Linked DNA regions of Homo sapiens: region 1 is linked to region 2. The links come from fine-mapping of genetic effects on gene expression. A gene starts in region 2. The other region holds a variant in brackets. All regions are shown on one strand. Distances are between the middles of the regions.

The links. PIP is the estimated chance that this variant, and not a neighbour inherited with it, causes the effect.
Region 1: its variant is fine-mapped to the expression of HDDC2 in whole blood (INTERVAL, PIP 0.99).

Annotation. Positions count from the first base shown.
Region 1 is chr6:125,268,823-125,277,499 of GRCh38, forward strand. It overlaps HDDC2 (HD domain containing 2), which reads right to left. Exons shown (of 6, transcript NM_016063.3): 5 at 8,280-8,418; 6 at 6,528-7,421. The coding sequence ends at 7,324. LOC124901395 (a long non-coding RNA gene) reads left to right here. Exons shown (of 2, transcript XR_007059736.1): 2 at 1,694-7,098. Among named protein-coding and RNA genes, the nearest start is that of HDDC2, 29 kb to the right of the region's middle. The variant T/A (reference allele first, on the strand shown) is at 3,497.
Region 2 is chr6:125,298,330-125,306,677 of GRCh38, forward strand. It overlaps HDDC2 (HD domain containing 2), which reads right to left and starts at 3,638. Exons shown (of 6, transcript NM_016063.3): 1 at 3,520-3,638; 2 at 2,209-2,330; 3 at 385-487. The coding sequence starts at 3,603. RefSeq lists a silencer at 3,328-3,667 and a cis regulatory region at 5,161-5,341.

The DNA of each region.
Region 1 (8,677 bases), 29 kb before region 2:
TTCATTTGTGGGATGAGGGAGCAGACAGTATCCCTGTTCTGCCTCTGGGATGGAAAAGCTGGCCTCCATCATGACTCCCCTCCCTCCTTCAGTGGTTGCAAGTAAGCAGGTGGCTAGTGGCAGGGCAAGGTTACCACACCCTGATTGAGTGGCTTTGGGCAGCCATATGGACTGTGTGAAATGACATTGGTGAAATAACTGAAACTGTGAGTAAATGGCAGTCATATGCTGATTTGGTGCAAGTCATCTGGGCGATGGTTATATGGCAGGCTATGTTTGACCTGAATACCCGGGGGCCAGGTGATGAATGTTTACCTCTGCACCCCCGAGCACCTTTGGCTTCCTAGCTGCTGTCCTCACCCTGTAGGTAGGGCACCGCATACATGAAGTGACCACTGCTATAGCAGCTCTCGGGGAAGCAGAAGGCCATCGGTGGGACTGAGGGGTCCACACCATAAAGAAGAGGAAGGTGCCCTGCCCACAGGGGGCTCCCGCATGGGCAAAAAGGGGGCCCCAATGAGTGACACACTCACAGATGTGGGTAGATTTGATTTTGTCCAGGGTTGACTGAGAGAAAATCAATAAACTGCCCAATGAAGTATTCTTAACTTTGTGGAGACACTTGTCTCCAGAGAAGCAATTCTGGAAAATACCAAGGGGAAGAAGGACATTGCTGCGTGACCCATTCCCGCCCAGGTGCTCCAACTCAAGGACTACTTGCTGCAGCCAGGCTGAAATGTAGAGCCTTTTCTGTTTGATTAGGGAACTGGCCAATGTGCCCAGCTTGGGGGGACACCAGATGACCAGTGGCCACATGTAGAATTAGCAATTCACTGGTCCCCCACTAACGTACAGCGGGTGTCAGTGCTGGTAGATATTGGCACAGATTGTAGCCTTGTGTATGAGAATCAGATAAGTTTCTGGGCAAGGCTGTTACATTTATGTTTATGGAGGCTGGTTACTGAAAGTGAAACCTGTGTCTCTGTACCTCGGCATTGGCCACTTGGCTCCCTGTTTATATACTGTGTATGTCTCCCCCATACCTGAATACATCCTGGTGGTGGACATTTTACATGGCCTGGCGTTACAAACTACGGCCAGGGAATTCAGACTCCTAGTGCATCTGGTGAAGCTGGTGCTGCAAGGACATAGGCATCACAAGCCTCAGGTCCTGTCACAACCCCAACTGGTTACTTCCACCCATCAATACCATTTGCTGGGTGGGCATATGAAGATAACTGAGACAATTTAAAAGCTGGAGGAGGTGCAGATAGTGTGTGGCATCCACAGCTCCTACAATTCTCCAGTGTGGCCAGTTAGAAAGCTTGATGGAACTAGGCGGATGACGGTAAACTATCAGGAACTGAATAAAGTAACACCCGCTTTGAGTGCAGCTGTACCGTCAATCATGGATTTGATGGACTGCTTGACAATGGAACTGGGACAGTACCACTATGTGGTGGACTTGGTCAATGCATTTTTCTCCATCGACATTGCTCCAAGAGCCAGGAACAGTTTGCCTTCACGTGACAAGGGCAACAATGGACTTTTACAATGTGGCCGCAGCGCTATGTGCATAGCCCCACCATATGTCATGGTCTTGTTGTCATGGATTTAGCCACTTGGCAATGTGCAGAAGGGGTCCACCTATTCCATTATATTGATGATATGTTAACCTCTGATTCTCTTGTAGATTTAGATGTGGCGGTGCCTCTCTTGCAGCAACATTTGGCAGCATGCAGTTGGGCCATCAATGAATCCAAGGTCCAAGGGTCTGGATTATCTGCCAAATTATTGGAAGTTTCCTGTCTAGGTAAGATGATGGCCATACCAGAGGCTATTATTGACAAAATTCAGGCATAGCCCTGGCCCACCACGGTGAAGCAGCTACAAACTTTTGTGGGCTTCCTGGGATACTGGGGGGCATTTCTGCCCCATTTAGCTCAAATGACAAAACTGTTGCACGGTTAACAAAGAAGAGAGCTACCTGGAATTGGGATATGGCTGAGACCGCTTTCCTGGCAGCCAAGTGGGCTATTCAGCAGGCACAAGCCCTATGGGTAGTTGGCCAGGGGCACCTGTTTGAGCTGGATGTGCATGTGAGCACAGATGGTTTCAGTTGGGGCCTGTGGCAGCATACAGAGTGCCTGAGAACACTAGTAGGCTTTTGGTCTTAACTGTGGAAAGGAGCTGAGCTCCAACAGTCCTTGATAGAGAAACAGCTAGCAGCTGTATATGCAGCATTTCAGTCTTGTGAAAGTGTGACAGGATGGGCTACAGTCATCATGTGGATGGCTTACCCAATAGTGGGATGGATGTGTTCATGGATAATGCCCCCCTGGACTGGGATGGCACAGACATCTACTTTGGCAAAGTGGGGCACCTACTTGGAGCAGCAAAGTTTGCTGAGTACAAGACCCTTGGCAGCAGAATTGCAAGAGGTCTTGGGACCTATAGTCCTAATGCAAGAGAAGGCTATAGGGCCTGGGGCACCCCTAGACCCCAAGCCATCACCGTTTAAGGAAGGGTACCCCCCATTCCTGATGGGGCATGGTACACAGATGGGTCTAGCCAAGGATCTAATGCTGCCTGGACCGCTGTTGCAGTCCAACCTAGTACAGACACCATATGGTTTGAAACCAGGTGTGGGCAAAGTAGCCAATGGGCTGAACTTACAGCAGTATAGATGGTGATCACTAAGGAGCAGATATCTATGGTGATTTGTACCGATAGCTGGGCAGCCTACCGAGGCTTAACCTTGTGGTTAACTACTTGGAAAATACAAAATTGGCTAGTCAGCCACTGACCTATGTCATGGAGCCAAGTGATGTGGCAAGACCTCTGGGAAATGGATCATCAGAAAGATGTAATTATTTATCATGTGTCAGGCCATATGCCTTTGGCCACCTTTGGCAATGATGAGGCAGATGTCTTGGCCAAGGTCCAATGGTTAGTCGGCACCAACACAAGATGTGGCCTTCTGGCTACACCAGAAACTGGGACATGCCAGGGGCAAACTGATGTAACAGGGCAATAAGTGTTGGGGTCTGTCCCTGCCCATGCAAGGTATTTGGGAGGCTCGTCAGAAATGCCCAGTATGTGCTTGGTCATACCCTAAATGGAGGCAGCTGCCCACTTTTACACAAGTGACAACAGGGCGAGTGATCTTGACCAGGTGGTAAGTAGACTACATCGGTCCGCTGCCAAAATTGCAAGGGTATACACATGTGCTAACAGCTGTGGACATGGCCACAAGCCTGTTGTACATCTACCCTTGCAGGGTGGCCAACCAACAGCACATCCTCCGGGTCCTGCAACACTTATGTGCCCTGTATGGTTGCCCTCTGGCCATAGAGAGTGATAGAGCACCCATTTCACTGGACAACAGGTACAACAATGTGCACAACAAATGGACATAAAGTGGGGATTCCATGTGCCATACAACCCACAAGCTGTGGGTATGATTGAGCAATATAAAGGGCTCTTGAAGAATGGG[T/A]TACACTTGCATGTCACACCCGTCTTTGCAGTGCTGGAGTTCCAAGCTGGACCTGGTGGTTCAAACCTTGAATGAACAGCCATGGAAAGACCGCCCAGCCCTGGTGGAGGCTTTATTACACTGGGCCACCACCCCTATTCAGTTGCAGATACACACTAAGGATGACCTCCTCCGACCAGGTATGGGGACGAACGGTAACCTTTTGTTGCTTGCCCCAATGCCCCTGAAGGGAGGGGAACAGAAAACCTGGCTCTGGCCATGGACCCTCCAGGCTCCCCACTGCTGGTGGTTGGCCGTTGTAGCTCCCTGTGGGGAAGACCTACAGTATGACTTGCATGTCACTCCTTGGGCATTCAATACATGTCACCCTTGGTTGATTGTTCTTAGGGCAACAGCCAGGGAAGAAACGCTCCTCTGGGGGACATAAGTACTGTCTGTGTGGCCTATTATGAGCTTCCCCTTGACTTTGGCATAGATACCGGACCCATAGGAACCATGGGGAGCTGAGAAGGTGTGGTACCATCGCCCAGGGCAGAAGCTCTTGGCAGCTGCATTGTTATCCATGGATGAAAAGTTAGCCTGTATTTTGCCTGAGGGACGTCACTTACCTCTGTTAGTAGCTGTGCCTGCTCTGTCATTTTGGCCATAGGTTAACATGCTCCAACTGCATTGTAAACTGCGCCCACACCTGTGCTGAGGTGATCAATGTTTCCAACTTTCGGGTCTGCACTGCCCTTCCAGCAGCAGCTGCAGATGACTTGCCTTGGCATATACATTCAGTGTCTACAGAGAACTGGACATGGCTGGAGACTTGGGGTCCCGTGGTTGACATCTGGAATGCAACGCAGCAAGCTTTGGACAAAGGACGCTGCAAGATCCATGGTGCTCCCATCATGTGGCTGGCCCATAGCATTTATGATGGCTGGGGCTGGCTAGCGGGGGAACATGTAGTACCCCCAGCCCAGGTGTCGCAGAGCATAGAGCAACACTGGGGTAACACCACTGTGGGATAGGTACCCATCACAGCCTGTGTAAACATAACACATGTCACCATACTGAAGGTATGCTGGAACAAGCAGCCCCCAAGTTTGGGCCCCAAGGGACTTTGTGCCCCCTGGGAGTTTATGGGTCTGTGGGCACACAGGGTGGCCTTACCTACCAGTGAACTGGACGGAATGTTGGAACTGGGGGTGGCCACTGTTCTCTCCACATTGCCCAGACACTGCATAACTGGAAGGCGCTACACTCTCATTTTTTGTGAGTGCGACGAGCTCCCCAGTGGTTCTACCCCTTGACAGTGACTATCCCTGCGGCGGGTGTCACAACTGTAGAAGCACAAGTTACTGCTCTTGCAGAGCACACCACTCGGGCTCTGAATTACACCCAAGTGGCCCTCCTCCTGTTAATGGATGAGGCTGGTCAGATGAGAAAGGTGGTATTGCAAAACTGAATGGCCTTAGACATAGTAACCTGCTGCACAAGGAGGCACCTGTGCCCTTTTAGGAACACAATGTTGTACCTTTATCCCTGACAATTGGCAGAACATAACAGCAGCCCTGCAAGAGGTCTCATGGGAGATTAAGGTGGTGGAGAGCCTTACTGACAACCCCCTGCAGAGATGGTGGGCATCTCTGGGCTGTGGCCTACGCTGGGCCCTTACAGTCCTAAGTAGCATAGCTGGGATCCTGGTAATGAGCTGTTGCTCTCTGTAGTGTTGTGGGTTATGGATTCAGGGCTCCACCCTATGGGCACGTATCCCTACCTGAAAGACTCCTCTCAGCCTAGGGGATGGAGTGTAAGGGAAATGGCTGCATTTTAGTCAGGAGTAGGCTGAGGCAGCCTTCTGGCACAGCATGACTCAGTGGGTTTGGAACGCAGGCACACAACTCTACACATTATGTAACCATGCCACGTGAGGCACATTAGGTGACCATTCACATGAGCCTGTGCTTGGCTGGGATCCATTATTGTCTCTAAAAGGTTTAACTACCCTGCTGATGCTGTACATATGGCTCGCGCCTAGAGAGAGAATAACGCCATGTCAAAACTGCCTACGATTCCTCAAGTTTTTCCAGCTACCTGCCACCAGCCCACCAACTCCCTTTGGACCTCAGTTTGGGCTAGAATCTGACAAACAGTAACAAATAATTCTTTTTTCTTGAGTTCAAACCATGAATAATTATTTACTCTGCATTGTAATTATAGGGTTGTCATTCAGAAGACAAAGTCTAGGCAAATGGCAGGTATCTTCTAAGGACTAACATTTTTAAGTAATAATGCTCATTTATAGACATTGCTGGTAGGCTCAGGAGCTGTTATTTTGTTGATCTTCATTTTGTTATTTTCTTATCATCAAATGTTTTATTTATAACACTATTATATTTTTTTCTTTCTTTCTTTAAAAGATGTATTTCCTCAGGAAGGAAGGTTTAGGACTAACTGAAAACTCCCATTTCGTAGGTAGATGATGAACTGAGATAATGGTTAAGTGACTAGTTATAAAGTCTAACCCAGTAGAAGTTTCCAAAGTCTCTCTGTGAATTGTTTTGTTAGCTATTTATGAAAATTATGGTAGACAAAACATTGAAAATAAAACTGCAGGGCCACAGAACACCTTCTGGTTATAAATACTTGAACTTTATCTGGGGTTATTTTGTGTGTATGTTTTCATGCCAAGGGAAAAACTCCACAATCCTAATAGATGGAGTTGTTTTCCTACTAACCATATATCCAGTAATGGACTTTACCCTCTTTCTTCTTTTTGATACAGAGCAATTACACATACATATGTGTGTTGCTTCTGAAAAGATCATGCACCTTGCTTCCTGCAGATTGGGTATCCATGGATACCGCAAAGAGTTTCCAAAGAAACACTGCCTAGAATTTTCACCATGCCAGCCTCGAAGGCCTTCAAATGGAAAGTGACATTTGAATTAAAGGGACAAGCATCATTGCTCCACACCAAAACACTGGGCAGGTTTGCAGAAATCGTATTCTTTTTTGCACTATTCAATGTAAAGGCAGACAGGGTGGATTATTTATCCTATAAAAGGGAAAAGAGAGGAAGAAATCGGGTTGATATATTCCCTACCTGAGGCTCAATGACCCCAGTTCCTATTTATATTTCTCACCTGATGATACATGCTTTTACAATAAAGGTCTCAAGATTTATAAGTCAGACAGGGAAAAATATACAAAGGAATACAAGTTGCATTTTTATATGCCCCGGTTTATATCTCTAAATGACAAAAAGTATTGGGAAGAGGGGCAGAGCCTATTAGTAGGTTTACAAGCCTATGATTAGAAGTCTGAAGCAGTCTGCAGTGAAATTCAAAATCTGGCTCAAGAGAGTAAATCTGAATAAGGCAGCAATTTCATCTGGGGAGAGAATACATCACTAGTACATTTTCTTTTCTGGATTCTTATCACTAAATCAGCTGAAGAATCTGTTCTTAAAAGCAATCATAATGAAATTTTCTATTATTCAATGAACCTAGCCTTCGGGGATATCGGTAATTAAGTCAGAATAAGATGATTTTAAATCTCCAATAAATATTCTAATATTTTAGGTGTTTAATATTTATTTATTTAGTTCATAAACAGGCACTGCCACCTCCAGTGTTCATCCATGGCACTTTCATGACCGCTTCCTGTTCTGTGGCTTCTTTTAGTGCCCAAGTTGTATCACATTTCTTGCTGAAGTTCAGACAATTGAAAACAAACAGACTCACATCTAGGGAAATCAACAGACCAACAATGGCAAAACACAATACAATGAAATGGAAAAATAATGTTTGTTACAGGAGTGCAGCAATTTAGAGAGTGTCTCAGGAGTGTGGCTCACTGGCAGCTGCAGCTATGTTAGTGCTTCTTTCTGCCTCAAGTTCAGAAACAAGCTGGACTATCTCAGGGTGATTGAATTTTCCTGCAAAGCAAAAGAACAGGGAAAAATACATTCCCATATTGACAAGAGAGTATATTCATTTCCCCAGCTTGATCCCAGGGTTCACTGGGGGCTCTAGTCTACGATCTGACCCACACTTCATTCCAAAGCAGAAAGAGATTCCAGGTCCTGGGAAGGGGCTGAAGGGGACCACTTGGCATTTACGCTCTGTCACCCCAGGTGCAACTGAGAATAAGGATGAGACTCAGGCAAGGAATCATCAATTAGGCAGAGGTAGGGGAAACTTCACCAGGCTCCTCAGTGCCTCTACCAGGAACTATGGGAAAACTCAGGTGTGAGAGCCCAGAAAGCTGAAGACAATCTCTGCCCATTCCAAACCTGCAATTAAGTAAGGAGAATGAAGCACCTATATATGAAAAGACAAGGAGGAAGATCAGAGGGGCTAGGCTGGCTCATGATGTAAACAAGGATGCAGGTGTCTCTCTTGTAAACACCTCTACACTTCAATTGGCTGATCTGTGCTGTCATCCCTGCTCCTCAGACCTCCCCAGATTTCTGCTTTGGTAGCAACCAAGCTCTAAGCTATTGTATGTCCATGACGGCTAGCATGGGGGACTGTTCAACCCAACATCTCTTCTCTCACCGTCTTTTCTTGCCTGTGTCTGTTGTTGCTTACTGTTCATTCCACATTAAACTCTATTCCATTTATTTCCTATCCTCAGCCTCTTACCCGAATGTTTCCTTCCCTTTCTTTTTAGATGCTCCACATGAAAGGGTCAGATGAAGGTACCAACAGTGGGTTTCCCTAATATTAACATTAGTCACTACACTGAGTAAGCCAAACTAAAATGGACTCTTGTTGAAAATGGTGTTGAGTACCTGCTGTGGAATCATAGAAGTCTTGCAGTCTCCCAGGTTTGTGTTCAAGGTCTTCATATTCAGATGCTTGAAGAATCATTTCACATTGGTCTAGCTGCTTCACAAATTTGGCTTCTGCACTAGATTGGGTCTCGTACTCCTAAGTAAAGGGACAATTAAAGCAGCATGATTAGCGCTGCATAATAGGGTATCCTGGGAAAATTCTGACTCTGGTACCCGAAATCAGAGTGACAGCTACAAGTACATTCTGTATCGGCCCCATTTCTCTACTGTTTAGAAATCCATCAGAGACACTTCTGTAATTTCACAGCCTAACACCAGGACTCTATACAAGAAAGATGTGCTCTCCATTCTAAGTATTCTACCAGAAGCCATGGAAATCTTGTATGTTCATCTTA
Region 2 (8,348 bases):
GCAAAATCCAATCTGCTGCTTATTCCAGGAAATCCCTGCTTCTGGAAGATAAGGCTGTAAACCCCCTAAAACTGGGTCAACACTAACAGTTTATTCTTCAAAACTCATTACGACCTTCCTTCACATGTTTACCAATCTAAATCTATTATATCCTAAACTGTGCAATCCCAGCTAGTTGCCTAACTTGTCAGATCCATCTTAATATTCTCCAGCCCAGGCCCTGAATCTCTAAAAATATCTTCCCCTGACCTTCCCCTTCCTAAGACACTACTAAGACTATCAAGGCGGTATTCTCCCTAACTGTAACAGGTCTCATAAACTTAGCTTTGCTTCAGCAAGAGGTTTTTCTGGTGGTTTTTTGCACAGTCAATAGTCAACACTGACCTCTTCTCGCCTATGTTTTTCTTCTTTGGGGATGTTATCTGCTGGTGCTATGTCCCCAACGATGCATTCTGCCATATCATGAACCAGGGCTAGGCGTACACATCTGATCAGGCAAGAAATGTCGAATAATTACACAGAATTATATTTACTACAAGTTCCTTCTCTATACTCTTCCAAAGTTATATAATATATATATTTTTTCTCCACCCTCACAGAGTATTTTAATGTAGTATTTTCTAAAGTAGTTATATTCTGCCAGCCTACAACAGTTCTGATCAAAACTGTTAGTTCATATTCAATAAAATACATGTGAGTATAGGGGAAATTGTTAGCATTAATTTTTTTTCTTAAATGGTTTATCTCTGAAATCTCACTTTAAAAGGCTAATAGGCCAGGTGCGGTGGCTCACGCCTGTCATACCAGCACTTTGGGAGGCCGAGGTGGCGGATCACCTGAGGTCAGGAGTTCGAGACCAGCCTAGCAACATGGTGAAACCCCATCTCTACTAAAAATACAAAAATTAGCTGGGTGTGGTGGCACACACCTGTAATCCCAGCTACTCAGGAGGCTCAGGCAGGAGAATCATTTGAATCTGGGAGGTGGAGGTTGTAGTTGGCTGACACTGCACCACTGCACTCCAGCCTGGGCGACAGAGTGAGACTGTCTCAACAAAAAAAAACGAGATTACATTTGACAACTTTCATGTTCCTGACACATGTGAATCATTCAATAAGTGGTTATGATTATTAGCGGTTAAGGAATAGTGGTTGTGATAATTCATCATCAAAACAGGAAGTCAAGTAATGAGATAAATGCCCCATAGGGCCAGTATGTTTTAGGCTCCCCACACTACCAAGGCAGTACAAGGCCCAACAGTGTCCTCTGAGATTTCCCTGCCTCTAGTCTCTTTCTGGTCCAGTTCAAATCCCAGACTACTCCAAACTGCATCTCTATTGGACTTCATTTTCACCTTGTACCATTTGCCAAAAACCTCCTCAGTTCCACTTCATCTGCTGAGTAACAGAGGACTCCTCAGGCTTCCCAAATGAACTCTTTGCTGCAGTCAAGTTGATTAATTTCTCATTTGCAAAATACTCCTTTACTTTCCTACACTCAGGGCTTTGGTTTATCTGCCCTTCTCTCTGCATGCAGTGACTTCTCCTACCTCTCTGGCTACGTTAACCCTTTTGAGCTCAACTCAGATTGCACCTCCTCCATTAAGATCAACCAAGAACAGGTGATCTCCCCTGCTCTTACAATACTTAACATTTTCGACCATAACTTACATTTCACTTCTTACAGAAGCTATTTTGGGCCTGCGTAATTCACTTGGGATTTATTTACTCTCTTACATGCTAGTAAACTTTTGTTCTGTGCTCAAAAAGCATTTTAACACTTGTCGATTAAATGAAGGGGGAGAAGATACCTCTTTCTCAGCTATGTCTTGCACACACAACTCCAAAAGGAAGCCTCACGAATGGATACTACTATCCATAAAAGGCACTAGGAAAGAGCACACAGTGTACTAATACAATGCTAGAATTTTAGACATAACACACTCACCTTCAAGGCCCCAATATCACACTTAAGTTTCCCCTGATACCCTAGGCAGGCTCTATCACTTGCCAACAGAAACCCCAGATTGCAGTTTACAACAACTGAGGCAACATAACCCACATCCTAAATTTGTATGGTTTGCTTCAAATAATTTTTCTTGACCTATAAACTAACCTACAAGGATTTGACATGGGTCTCAGTAGTAAAAACGGGTGCACACCCATAGACCAGAATCTCTCACGAGCATCAAAGTCCAGCTCAGCTTACCGGTCTTTGTTAAGACGGTCATCTTTGATCACCATAGCCATAACTGCCATCCGGTACATGTGATCTGAAACGCTCTCCGGCCTCTGGACATTTCTGTATACCCAGCCAGTTCGTGGGACTCTCTGATAAATATGAAGAAGAAAAAGAAGTTTTAAAGAACAAATATTAACTATCTGCTATGCTCTTCAAGAGATGTCCAGGATATAACACACAGAAGCCGGGTCATAATTTCAGAACCTATTACAAAATGTTTTGCTAAACTAGCTAAAATGATAGACATCTGGAATCAAATGAACTAGAGAGCTCAGAGAATGAAAGGGGTAGAAGACAGAGAGAGATAAGTCACAAAGTCCATTCGTCAAATTATTCTGTTACTGATGTATAATTATGGAACATATGCAAGTCCTTTAAACAAAAACAAAACTGCATTTTTCCGAACAAGAGTTGCGGCTTTTTGCCTTCAAATAATCCTACACAAGCAGAAAACACTGTATTGAAGGGTCTGAACGTGAACGAGTGATAGGCTTCCAAATTCTGAGGCACAAGGGATAAGGGCACTTCTAATTGCTTGATGCTACCAGCCGTGACTCTTCCTTTTATTCACATCATAACTTCATCTTGTGAAACTGCATTTCTTCCTCAGAATTCTACATCTCTAAGGAATGTTATAAATAGTAGTCAGAGTGGCATGAAACGGATAATTTACTTTGAACTTGGGAGAGAGACGGGGAAGACGCACATGATGAAACTCGTGTGTATTACATTAAATCCCGTTTGGGGGGTGGCCGGGAGAAAAGTCTTGTTTCTGGAAGTAACTGTGAGACAGACATAAAAAGCTCCACTTAAAATCTGAGGAGCCGACAGATTCTGTTCTTCCCACCCGTGCTCAGAAGCAGCCGCGCTTTACACACACACACACACACACACGAGTTCTGGGGTCGTGAGCACACACACACACACACACACACACGAGTTCTGGGGTCGTGAGCCCCGGAAAAGCTCAGTGCAGGCAGGGCCAGGCCGGCTGCTCTCCGGGAACTGGCGCGGCTGCAGTGCGGACCTCGCGGCGCCAGGCTCTAGGCTCAGACTCCGGGCCGCCCCAGCTGGCCAGCCTGTCCCGCCGGCTGCTTCCTCCGTCCACCGTCGGCAACGCGCGGCCGCATCCGCAGGACTGGGGCCTTTCCGGAATTCGGCGTGGCGGACGCGGCGCAGGAAGGGCAAAGACCGCCGGCCGAGCGGGGAGGCCGGAAGCTCCGCCGCCCCACAGTCCCGCCCGCTCGGCCGCGGCCTCCCGGCCTGGTGCCCGCTCACCTTGAGCTGCCCTACCAGCCGCAGGAACTGCAGTAGGGACCGAGCCCCGTGGCCCGAGAAGGTCGCAGAGGAGACCGAAGCCATGCGGCCACCGACCCCGGCTGGGCGGAGCAGGCCGCGGCGAAGCTCCTCCCCGTCCTCCTCCTCCTCCCCTTCCCCTTGTCTTTCTTCCCCCTCCTCTTACTCTTCTATCTCTTTCTCCTCCCCCTCTTCTTCTTCCTTCTGCCCCTCTTCCTGCTCCCCCTCTTCCTCCTCCCCTTCCAACTCCTCCTCCTCCTCCCCCACTTCCGCTTTCTCCTCTTCCTCTTCCTCCTGCCCCTCTTCCTCTCTCCCCCTCCTCTTCCTCCTCCTCCTGTTCTTATTCCTCCTCCCCCTCCTCCTCCTGTTCTTATTCCTCCTCCCCCTCCTCCATATTCTCACGGTTTTCTCAGGACCTTCTGTCCAGCCTTCGCCTTCTTGGCCTTGGTGTCCGCTGCTTGGGCATTGCTCCGTCAGTGGCAGACACCTTGCTTGGCACATACTTGACACTCAGTACTCTTTATGAAAAATAAAGCTCTCCTTTCTAAATTTATGAACCTCGTTATTCTTCAGTTGACAGTGTAAAACCATGAAACTGGATGAGGTCACCTGGCAAGAGGGTGTGAATGAAGAAGAAAAGACACCCAAGACCTGAACCCCAACATTTAGGCTTTGTGAGATCAAGAGGGAACAGCCAGTGAGGTAGGAAGAGGATTAGTAGGTAGGATAGTTGTGTCCTGGAAGCCATGTACAAAAATATTTCAAGAAGGAAGGAATATGGTCAACCAAGTCAATGTGAGGACCAAGGTTTGACTTCCAGACTTAGTAAATTCAATATTATTGGTTACCCTGACAAAAGCAGTTTTCAGTGTAGTGGGCCAAGCAGAACCTAGTGAGATAATTCCGAAGAGAATAGGAGCAAGTATTACAGCACATTGGAGATGGGGTTGGGGTGCTGTTAACTAGTGGAGAGATTGTTTCAAAACAGGAGATATTATGTATGTTTACTGATGAAGGGGATCTAGTAGAAAGGGAAACATTGATTATGTAAGAGACAAAGAAGAGAAATATTTGAATGTCGGCCTTGAGTAAGGAAAAATATTCCCATCTGGTGTACAAGATAAAAGATGGGCTTTAGATAGGAATATGGAGAATTCATTCAAATATTGGAGGAGGACAGAGTATAGGGTGACTAATCAGTCGCACATGTGGTCATGGGAGGTTGTAGAAGTTCTCTTCTGATTGCTTCTATTTTCTCACCAAATTAGGAAGCAAAGTATAGGCTGGGATGTTATAATAACAAACAACCTCCTTATTTCCTGTATCTCAGCAGTTTAACACATCAAAGGTTTATTTCTCTCTCATGCTAAGTGTCTATTGTAGATCAGCTAGAGGATGCTGCTTGCTCTAACCTTACTCAGGGAGCTAGGAGGCTTTCTTTGCTCTCTTTTGCCAAAATTGGAAAAAAGAAAAGTGGCACTCTGGCTCTTAAAGCCTGTCTCTGGAAGTGATATATGACCTTTTGTCTACGTATCATTGGTGAAATAAGTAACACTGCCACGTCTAACTTCAAAGGGGGCCTGTGGAGTGCAATCTTGCTAGGCCTCTGGGAAGAAAGGAGGCTAGAATGTTTGTGAATAGAGGAGGAGGCATTTGAGGTTTAAGGAGTGATATAGTTTGGCTCTGTGACCCCACCCAAATATCATGTCAAACTGTAATCCTCAAAGTTGGAGGAGGGGCCTGGTGGGAGGTGATTGGATCATGGTGGCAGACTTCCCCCTTGCAGTTCTTGTGATAGTGAGTGAGTTCTCATGGGATCTGGTTAATGGTGTGTAGCACTTCCCCCCTTTGCTCTCTTTCTCTTCTGCTCTGCCAGGTGAAGACGATGCCTGCTTCCCCTTCACCTTCTACCATGATTGTGAGTTTCTGCAGCCATGCTTCCTGTACAGCCAATGAAATACCTTTTCTTTATAAATTACCTAGTCTTAAGTAGTTCTTTATAGCAATGCAAGAATGGACTAATACAAGGAGAAAGAAGGCATGAAATAATTTTTTTGAAGACTGGTTCAGCAACAAGATTAAATATGACTAAGAACCAAATAAATGCCAAGGACATTGGGGCTTGTATTAAACGTGGTTAGGATAATGACCTGGAAGCCATTTTTATGATGGTAAGTGGTGCTAAATAAAGGAAATATCAAGCCAGGTGTGGTTTGTGCCTTTATCCCAGCTACTTGGGAGGCTTAGATGGGAGGATCACTTGAGCCCAGAAGTTTGAAGCTGCAGTGAGTTATGATCACTCCAGCTTGGGAAACAGAACCTGTCTCTAAAAAATTAAAAATTAAAAAATGGAGGGATCAAGGTTTAAAAAGAAGGATCAAGAATCAGAGGCAAAGTCAGACAGTCCACTGGAGGAACACGAAAGCAAATGACCAAAAAGATCCAGGAGAATAAGGAAGATGAGGATGTTGGATTTGCTGAAGGATGTAGTAAGGGGCTTTCAAGAGATAGGTGCCATGAAGCAATGGGGCTGCAAGCTAGCTGGTGAATGTGCAGTGTAACCCTTACGGTTCCTTCTGAGCAGCCTTGTCTTCTTTTGCCAACAATGCATTGATTTCCTTTGAGCTCCTCCTGATTCATGCAGGCTTGATTTAGTTTCCATGGGTATTTCTGTCTGTATTTGCAACTTTCTTTGCAAAATACACGTGAGTTATCTTAACTTTGTGTAGTGAGCTGTAAAGAATTTCTCCAGTTTCCTAAGTGATCAGAAGTTGGAAGACGTCAAGTTGCTGAAAAATTATGAATTGAGTATAAATAGTTTTTGAGGGACACTATTTAAAGATGATATGGATTTTTGGAGGGGACATTACTATCTAAAAGTAAATTGTTACTGTGAAAACTCAAAATATAGTGCCGACTTCTTGCTTTTGTAAACTGAAGATGTTCATCAGGGTTCGTAACAAGGTTTATTCCTACTATATCATTAAAGACCAAGATGTTTGACTCTAGAAGGTGGAATAGTAGCCTCTTAAGGATATCTAATTTTTCCAGAGCTTGCAAATATTTCTATATTACATGGCAAAGGAGAATGGTAGCAAATGGAATTAACTTTGCTAATCAGCTGAACTTTAAATAGGGAGATTATCCTGGATTATCCCAATGAGTGAGATGTAATCTCAAGGGTTCTTAAAGATGGAAAAGGGAAGGAGAAGAGTGAATGCCAAAGGGATGTGATGGGAGAAAGACTCAACTGGCCATTGCTGGCTTTGAAGATAGAAGGGGCCATGAGCCAAGGAATGCAGGCAGACTCTAAAAGCTGAAAAAGACAGGAAAATTAGATTCTCCCCTAGAGCTTCCAGGAGGAAATGCAGTGTGGCCCGCCCCTCGATTTTAGCTTAATGCAGCCCATTTTGACCTCCAGAACTGTAAGATAATAAGTTTGTGCTAAGTTTATGGTAATTTGTTACAATAGTAATAGGAAACTAATACAGTGGATAATCATGTTGGATGTCCTGAATCCCTTTTTACCAAATACCCTTCTTCCCCTTTTCTGCTGAAGAAGGGAAATTGGAAAGCCTGTTTCTATTTCACAAAACCAAAGACATATTTCAATGATGTGTTGGTCAAGCATCTTCCTCTAGCATTAGGTTAGAGGAAATAGGAATCAATTTATTTCCACAGAAGGTGGTTCCATTTTAAAGCAGTGAGCAAGGAAGGAGATTTGGCACAATGTACTTGAGTCAATTGGAAGGAAAGATGTTTGAAATTAGAAGGCTCTCGTTAGAGGGACTCTTTACTTGGATCCAATATACATTTCAGGGGAACCTGTGGATACCCTGAAATTGTCTACAACTTGTGTTGCTTATGAAATTTTTTTTGTTTAGAAGATTCTTAAAGTGGTCTGTGGCCAGAACAGGGGCAAAATCTGCCACTATTGAGAAATCTGCTATGTATCTGTGATGTAGTACACAAAACTCTGGACTCAGAGCGATAATAATCAAAGGTACAGCTAATTGAGCCTCTGTTAGTGTGAAGCATTGTTACATCTCTCATCTTGTTTTATTCTCTCATTATCACTCCAAGGTATTAATGATTCCACATTCCAGATGGGGAAACTGAGGTGCACCAAAGCTAAAGAATTGGCCTCAGTTTTTAGAGCCAGGAAACGGTGCAAGCACTGAAACTCTAGCCTGTCTCCTTCCAAATCTTTCTTTTTGTGGCACTTGGTGCTCCCCAGTGGCTATTAGTACCCAATTCTTAATGTTGTGGAAATTCAATGAGATTACATGCCTGGAATGGATTTTGTAAACTTATTTATATGAAGAATTGGGCAAGAAAATAGGTAGTGATAGATTGATCTGAGAAATTTTGTCAGAAAATATTCATAAGTCCATTCTGGGAGATTACTAAAGAGATTTGTTCCTTTAAGGTATTCAAGGAAGAAGTGCCGCATCGGCCTGCTGCATATTCCTTGATAAAAAAGGTTTACATCAGTTGTTCTCAATCCAGGTTGTTTTACTCAAAAGGGACATTTGGCAATATTGGAATACATTTTTAGTTGTCGCAGAAAAGAGGCAGAGGAGGAGAGGAGCAAATGAGAGGCAGAGGCCAGGGCTGCTGTTAAAATTCTTGCAGAGCACATGACAACCTTCTGCAACAAACAGTTATCCAGCACAAAACATCAATAATGCTACGATTGGGAGACTACACTCTATATGTTTAAAAATGAGATGCCTAAACTTACTTTCCTTACATCATCAATAAATTATAATCCAGAGAAAGTTGATGCTATGTTTATGAGTTATATAGTA